2 linked regions of the Homo sapiens genome follow. The protein of the gene in region 2 purifies or fractionates together with the protein of the main gene of each other region. This does not show direct contact. Each region holds a gene or a part of one and is shown on either strand. Other genes may lie near its edges.

Region 1 (3,746 bases), on a different chromosome or scaffold from region 2:
TTCTGGGGTCCATCCTGGGTGTCCCCCAAGTCTGGTCCCCACCCCTTGCCCAACTAACTCCTCAGCCTCCCTCCTTGGGTCTCCCTGTTTCGCCCCTGCCTTCATCCAACCTGCCCCCCACTCTCCACACTCACTCCTGCCCAAGCCCTTTCTGGGGCTCCTGATGCCCTCCAGATAAAGTCCATGACTCTCCAGGGAGGGCCTGGAGGAGCTCCTCCCACCCCCAGCCTCTCCCCTTTGCCACTCCCGTCTTCCTCAGCTGGGGCCAGCCAGGGCCTGCTGGCTCCCCAGCCCCTCATGTGCTGCCCCCTGTTCCCCCACCCCCAAGGTCCTGTTCCTTTGTTTCACTGTCTGATCTCCCTGCTGGAACCTCAGCTCTCTAATGCAAGAGCCCCAGGGTGGAGCATACCATAGGCACTCCACAAGTGCTTGTACCATAGTACCATACCATGGGCACCGCATAAGTGCTTGTCCAATGCATGCACAGTTGAATGGATGGCAGGGTAGAGATGGTGTCCTATGTCTCAGTAACCAGAGTGCCAGGCACAGCGCCCAGACATAGTCAGCGCTCAGGTGGAATGAGTCGAGGTAACAAGAAGGCAAAACTGGCAATCAGGACCCCTGAATTCTGCCCCAAGTTCTACACGGGGTCCCTGGCAGCCTTGTCCTTCTGTTCCGGAGTTCCACACCTAGCCTCTCCATCACTGACTATTCTACCAATGGCAGGTCCAACGCAGCACTTCAGTGGCGCGGTCCTTTCCACGTCAGACAACATTCTCGCACACACCCTCTCATTCAAGCCCTCCACTGCCCTGCGGGTCCCACTTTTCCCAGACTCTGAGAGGGTACCAGGGCCCATGTGGTGGGGCACCACCGGGGTGCCAGTCACACTTTGCCCTTTGTTGGCTGTGTGGTCATAGGCAAATTCCTTGCCGTCTCTGAGTCAGTTTCCTCACTTGTGAAATGAGGATTCACCTCCCACCTAGGAAGTCGAGGAAGATTGCAAGACACCACCTGTGTAACCCACCCAGTGCCAGCTGCCTCTGTGATGTTCCAATGAGCCACAGTTACATTCCTTCTCCACGACTGACTTCCCCAAATCTGAGGTGAGAGCCTTGGCTGTCGGACGTAGGCTGTTAGACCAGTCCTGCCAGAGCAGTGTGGCTGTGGCCGCCTCTGTGGGGCCGCGGCTTGGAGGGCTGCTGTGGAGGCCAGCCTCTTCTGCGGAGGCCGACCGCAAACTCGCATCCTTCCTAAGGGCTGCCAAGACCCCGAGACACCCTGGCAGAACCTAGATACTGCTGGGGAGCCGGACGAGGGACACCCCAAGCCTCCCTCTCCCGCTCCATTCTCCTTGGAGACCCCACCAGCGCCCCGTGCCCGAATTCGCGCTTCAGACGCCCCGCGAGCGCCCCCTGGTGGGAAGCAAAGAACACCCTGGGCGCCCGGCTCGCCCCGGGACCCTCGGATGACCCCAGGTGCGACCCCCAGCTGGAGGGAGCTGGCCCTCCGCCCCTAGCCATAGCCTCCCAGCCCCGTGCAGCCTGGGGAATCCACGAACTGCTCCCTGGAGCGCCCCAGACTGGGCCTCTGGGAACGGTCCGCGCCCACCCCACCGCCCCTTGCCCGTCACTGACCCATCTTCTTCAGCGCCCGCAGCCCGGGCCTCTTGGTGCCGCCATCGGAGGGAGTCGGCGGGGACGGGAGAGCGACCGGCGCCGCGACTTGGGCTGCGACCTGGGCGGCCACCGGGGGCTCCTCGGGCGGGCGGCGGCAACGCCTCCAGCGGCCGCACAGCATGGCTTGGCGGGGGGCCGGGGCCGGGCCCGGGGTCTGCACGCGGGGACAGGGCAGCGGGGCGCCGCTCTGGCCCGGCCCCGGCTCTGAGCGAGGCGGCGAGCGAAGAAACTTAGCGGCGCGGGAGGGAGTCGGAGGAGGCAGCAGGAGGTGGGGCGGGGCGGGGCGGGAAGGGAAGGGGGCGGGGCCGGGGCGGTGCGAGGGCGGGGCCAGGCGGTGGCCTGGAAGCCCGGAGCCTCAGCGCTCGCCCCTGCTCGTGAGTCCGTCTCCCCTTAGTCCGGGCGAGCCTCTGATCTTGGCCGCAAGGGTGACTAGAGCCCCCATGCTGCGGGGCTGGGGGTGGGAGCCGGCACCGGGGACGAGGGCCATCCTCTGGCACAGACACCCTCTCCTTCCCGGGGGCCCTGACTCGAGGCTGACGCAGGACCCCCTCCTCCTTCCCTTCCGCGTCCCCGTCGCGCCGCAGGCCTCAGCAGGGAACCAGAGCCGGGACAGGACGCAGGGCCGGGAGCGAAGGCAGAACCCCGGGAGCTGAGCCGCTCGGGGCAGCGCGAACCCGAAGGGATGGGCATGGGGGTGGGGAGGTTGGCAGTGACGTCATAGGATTAACCTCCCTGTGCCAGGCCAGGTGCTGCCCCCTCGGAGAGCCACAGTCTCGGAGCTGACGGACCTGGGGAGCGTGAGGCGGAGCCGAGCCTGGAGTCCCCAGCAACTGGTTCTGGGTTCGAGGCTTGGACAGGCCGGCACCCCAGCCCGGCACCCGCGGTGTAGTTGTCCGCGACGTCAACCCGTGGGTGGGCATCCGTGTGCAGGTTCTGGTGGCCGAGTCGGGTGTGCACTTACTATTTATATGCAAGCACCAGAGTGCGTGCGCGAAGTGGGGGACGTCCAGGTGGCAGCGTTTCTGCGGCCGGTGGCCTGGGTCCGGCAGAGACATGGGCGCACACCGCCACTTTGCGGCGGCCAGCGGCGTGGCATCCTACAGAGAGGCTAGTGCTCAGGGCCTGATTTGCCACCTACTTGCCCTGCTCTACCCCATCCTCAGATCTCCCAGGCCCAGAGATTCTGCACACTGGCTTGGGTCCCTACGCCACTCTGGGGTCCTGAATTTTCTTTTTTTTTTTTTTTTTTTTTTTTTTTTTGAGACGGAGTCTCGCTCCGTCGCCCAGGCTGGAGTGCAGTGGCGGGATCTCGGCTCACTGCAAGCTCCGCCTCCCGGGTTCACGCCATTCTCCTGCCTCAGCCTCCCAAGTAGCTGGGACTACAGGCGCCCGCCACTACGCCCGGCTAATTTTTTGTATTTTTAGTAGAGACGGGGTTTCACCGTTTTAGCCGGGATGGTCTCGATCTCCTGACCTCGTGATCCGCCCGCCTCGGCCTCCCAAAGTGCTGGGATTACAGGCGTGAGCCACCGCGCCCGGCCCTGAATTTTCTTCTTGATTATCGTATTCGCCTTTGTGCTTTTGATCCTGCCGTTCCTTCCTCCAGAAACAACCTTCCTTATTCTCCTGGTTTACCCTTTTGTTATTCTTGTTGTTGGATAGGCTAAGTCTACATTTCTTTTAATTGTTATGGACACTTAATAGTTGCAGAGAATTATGGAGAGGCATGTAATGTTTTGATACAGGTATAAAATGTGTAATGATCAAATCAAGGTAATTGAAGTAACCATCACCTCAAGCATTTATCATTCCTTTGTATTAGGAACATTCCAATTCCGCTTTTAGTTATTTGTATTTGTATTTTATTTGTTTATTAGAGACAAGGTCTCACTACTTGGTTGCCCAGGGTGGAGTGCAGTGGCATGATCATAGCTCACTGCAGCCTCAAAGCAATTCTCTTGCCTTGGCCTCCCAAAGTGTTGGGACTACAGGCCTGAGCCACCACTTCCCGCCCAGTTATTTTGAAATATACAATAAATTGGCCGGATGCGGTGGCTCACGCCTGTA
Region 2 (3,746 bases):
GCCTGGCCTCGGTGTGTTTTAATGCAGTTGATACTAAAGTAAAACAGGAAAACAAGAACAAAAATTTATTTGTTTTGAAGGTGAACAGAGGGCTAATTTTCTATGCTTTTCTCTTTTTGGAACCCTGATGAATGTTCTCTCTTGGTACACCTTCCTTTAAGGAAGTTGGAAGGTCTAGAGGTAACAGTGGGGAAGTTAACCTAGTTAATCCAACTATTGTGGACCAGGCAGAGATAATCTCAACCTCAGCACTATGGGCAGTTTGGGCAAGATAAGTCTTCTTTGTGGGAGGTTGTCCTGCACATTGTAGGATGTTTAAGAGCATCCCTGACGTCTACCCACTAGATGCCAGTACCAGTCTCTTCCCACCTCCCCAGCCCCATGACAACCAAAAATATCTCAAGACATTGCCATTATATGCCCCATCTTTAACATAGAGACTGAAGTATATGAAGAAAATCTGGCATTCTAGGTAGTTAGAAAAGGGGTGACCTCAGGATCAGACCCCCCTGAAAGGGTTTCATGGAACCCCGAGTCCTCAGAATAGACTTTGAGGAGAACTGGCCTAGAGATTAGCAATTTGGAAATAAAGAAAATCACTTTTGCTACAAGTGGTATCAACTGGGGTTCTGTTATATGTATTCCTATTGTATTAGATTGAAATGTTAAGTAATTATATTCTTCTAAATTCTGCCTAGTAAACAGGAATCTGGGGTTTTGTAAAGCACGTTAGTTCAGATTTGAAATTTAAGATAACGTGACTATCCTGGACAGAGGTGTGCCAGAGCAGATACTGCATTAGCATATTACTGGTGTTAACAGTATTCACCTTTCTTAATGGGAAGCCTACCGGATATTTTCTTAAGTTGCCTTTATAAAGCAACTTAATGTGATCAGTTCTTCCGAATGGTGATCAGTTATTTTAAATATTTTCTTTTTTTTTTTTTTTCTTTTTTCTTTTTTTCCTTGAGACAGTCTCACTCTATCGCCCAGGCTGGAGTGCAGTGGTGCAATCTTGGCTTACTGCAACCTCCACCTCTTGGGTTCAAGCGATTCTCCTGCTTCAGCCTCCCAAGTACCTGGGATTACAAGCATGTCCCACTACACGTGGCTGATTTTTATATTTTTAGTAGAGATGGGGTTTCGCCACGTTGGCCAGGCTGGTCTCCAACTGCTGGCCTCAAATGATCTCCCTGCCTTGGCCTCCCAAAGTGTTGGGATTACAGGCGTGAGCCACTGCGCCCAGACATATTTTAAATATTTTCTTGCTATTTATTAAACCATTTAAAAGTTATCCAGCTTACTTCTCCTTTGCTCTACCCTAATATGCAGTATTGTTGTGCTTTGTAGATAACCAAAAGCACCATTTTGTTTCAGTGAGCCAATTTGATTTTCTTCCCTAAGTTGAATTAACAAGGTTTTACTGTAGTGTGATAGCCAAGGCAATTAACAAAAAATTATGAGGAAGTCATTTTTAAATTCTGTACTTTTGTTTGATTCTATGATTTTACTTTATTTTTTTTTTTAAATAGGAAATGACTTGCAGTTGAGTGAGTCTGGCAGTGACAGTGATGACTAGTGCTGGATCTTTCGAAACCTACTTTTTGGTGCACAAACATGCCGCAAGACTGAGCTACTTTGGCGTGGAGTCCATTGCAAGAGGAAAATGTTATGGATCAGTGACTGTAGTAGGAGTTTGAGGCTCTGGAACTCTCACATATTCAAGTCTTTAACTTAGTGGTGATGGGTGATTTTCTCGTGTCATTTTTGAACAATCTCATCTTTCAAAGTTTAAGTAGACCTGTAGAAGAGCTAACAGAATTATATTTCTATTTAGTTAAAATTGTTAATGAAAAACAGATAAATGTGCCCTGGTCTAAGTTACTCAAAGGCCATATCTTCACCAGGCCAGAGATTCAGTTTTAAACCTCAGCAGCCATCAGTTTGGCCAAGTGGTTGGTACCAGTGGAATGAAGTCTTTGATGGGTAGGAGAGAGAGGGAAAACCTCAAACTACATCATAGAAGTATGTTAAAACCACTTTAAATTGTTGACACAAAGTGGTAAGGAAGTTTTGTCTGACTCAGCCTGACAAGCCTGGATAGAAATGGACCTCAGAATACAGAATGGAGTCCTTGAGTGTCAGTTGGTGAGGACCATGGAGTCCTGCCAGCTCAACCTGTCATTTACAGACTAAGAAAGGGAAGTACACACCTGGCTTGTGGCCAGTCTCCTGCCCCCTCTCTGGGCTTTCCTCACTGTTCTCTCCCTTGAATCTCATTTGTAGGAATCAAGAGATTCCTATACATGGGACTTTTAGATGTACATTGGCACTTGGATTAGATTCCAAAAGACAAAAGTGTTGGGTGCTTCTAGCTTGAATTCAGTCCCTAAATACATGAGGCTGGGTGAGCAGATGAAACCGGTAGCCACTGTGCTGATGCATGTGACTCCATTCAGTTGGGGATTTTGGTTCCATGTGGATCCATACTAAGTATTCTTCAGTCAGTGGATTTTAGCAAGGGGAGGTAGGAGTGGAAGAGAGGTGTGAAGAAACCTCTCCGAACAAATGAACCAGCAGTAAGTTTCTAAAAATCAGAATCTAGATAGAAGTTCTGCAATATGAAATGAGCACATTCTTTGATAAGGCGTATCTATTCATGCTTTTGTACCACTGTTTTGTACCTGACTCCCTGACCGATTTGTATTTTTTATATACAACTAGAAGGAAGTCACAAGATTGCCTTCTACAGTGTGCCATTTCCAAATGGATCTGTTGTTGGAGGAAACTGGTTGCTAGTCAATGTTCTATATTTAATGAATGTGTGATAAATCATCCTGTAATCAGTATGGAGTAACCTGTTTTTGTAGTTTGGATGAATATGTCCTGAGAAATTTCCATCCACTTTGGTTCAGCGGACATCAAGGTAGTAATAATAATTTTTCCTCCACAGGTCCCTCCACTCATATGGCCTCTCCCTCCCCAGCTAGTGGAGGGGAAGCAGTCTGGACTTAGAAAGGAAATAGGTGGTCTGTCATAGGGGCTTTCATTAGAGTTAAACTTCATAGAGTCAACTGTTTCATCATCATAGTGAGCCCAGAGAGCCACTGCCCAGCAGCATGCTCACACCACCTACCCTAGTGTAGGTAATAGGTCTACGCTAGGACCCCGTGCTGGGCTCTCAGCCCATCATGAGATTTTGGTGGATTTAATGGCAGGTAGGAACTTATTTATAGTGGATTGATAATTGCTTTATAATTCCTTGGTAATGACAGCTCAGGGAAGGTTTCACAAGGTCATGATCAGGAGACTTGAATTGTTACTGGATGTAGGAATTGTTTCACTGCTCTTAACTTGCTCAAACTGGGGCAGGTTCCAGGAACTTGAACTAAAAATATCTATTTAAGCCTCTCTCTCTTTCTCTCCTCCCCAACTTTTTTCTGAAAGCCTTGATTTCTGTAGACAGAACTATGGTTTTTGGCATGTTGGGTCAAGACGTGTTTCTATAGGAAATGCTTGCACGTGGCACTGGCTTGGTGAGTCAAGCTTCCTGAGCTTCAGACCGTTTGTCCTGTCATCTGTCCTGCCCAACACTGTATGGTTTTTCTCTAGCACGGCTTCAATTTTGTTCTCTGCACAAAGCCTTTGGTGGTTCTGCCCTCTGCCCTCCAGCTTTACCCACCAGAGTAAGCAATCTTTTCTTTTTAGAAATCAAGAATTTGGCTTCACAGATGGCTTCTCACAGA

What was found.
Region 1: the proteins of EAF1 (region 2) and PLCD3 purify together in Homo sapiens (affinity purification with mass spectrometry; 4 studies listed by BioGRID and IntAct, with this or other methods). This does not show direct contact.

Annotation. Positions count from the first base shown.
Region 1 is NC_000017.11:45,130,611-45,134,356, forward strand, and holds the start of PLCD3 (1-phosphatidylinositol 4,5-bisphosphate phosphodiesterase delta-3), read right to left. Parts: upstream 1,906-3,746; 5' UTR 1,801-1,905; coding exon 1,638-1,800; intron 1,107-1,637; exon of another isoform or gene 987-1,106; intron 1-986. UniProt on the Homo sapiens protein: Hydrolyzes the phosphatidylinositol 4,5-bisphosphate (PIP2) to generate 2 second messenger molecules diacylglycerol (DAG) and inositol 1,4,5-trisphosphate (IP3).
Region 2 is NC_000003.12:15,437,577-15,441,322, forward strand, and holds part of EAF1 (ELL-associated factor 1), read left to right. Parts: intron 1-1,532; coding exon 1,533-1,579; 3' UTR 1,580-3,746. UniProt on the Homo sapiens protein: Acts as a transcriptional transactivator of ELL and ELL2 elongation activities.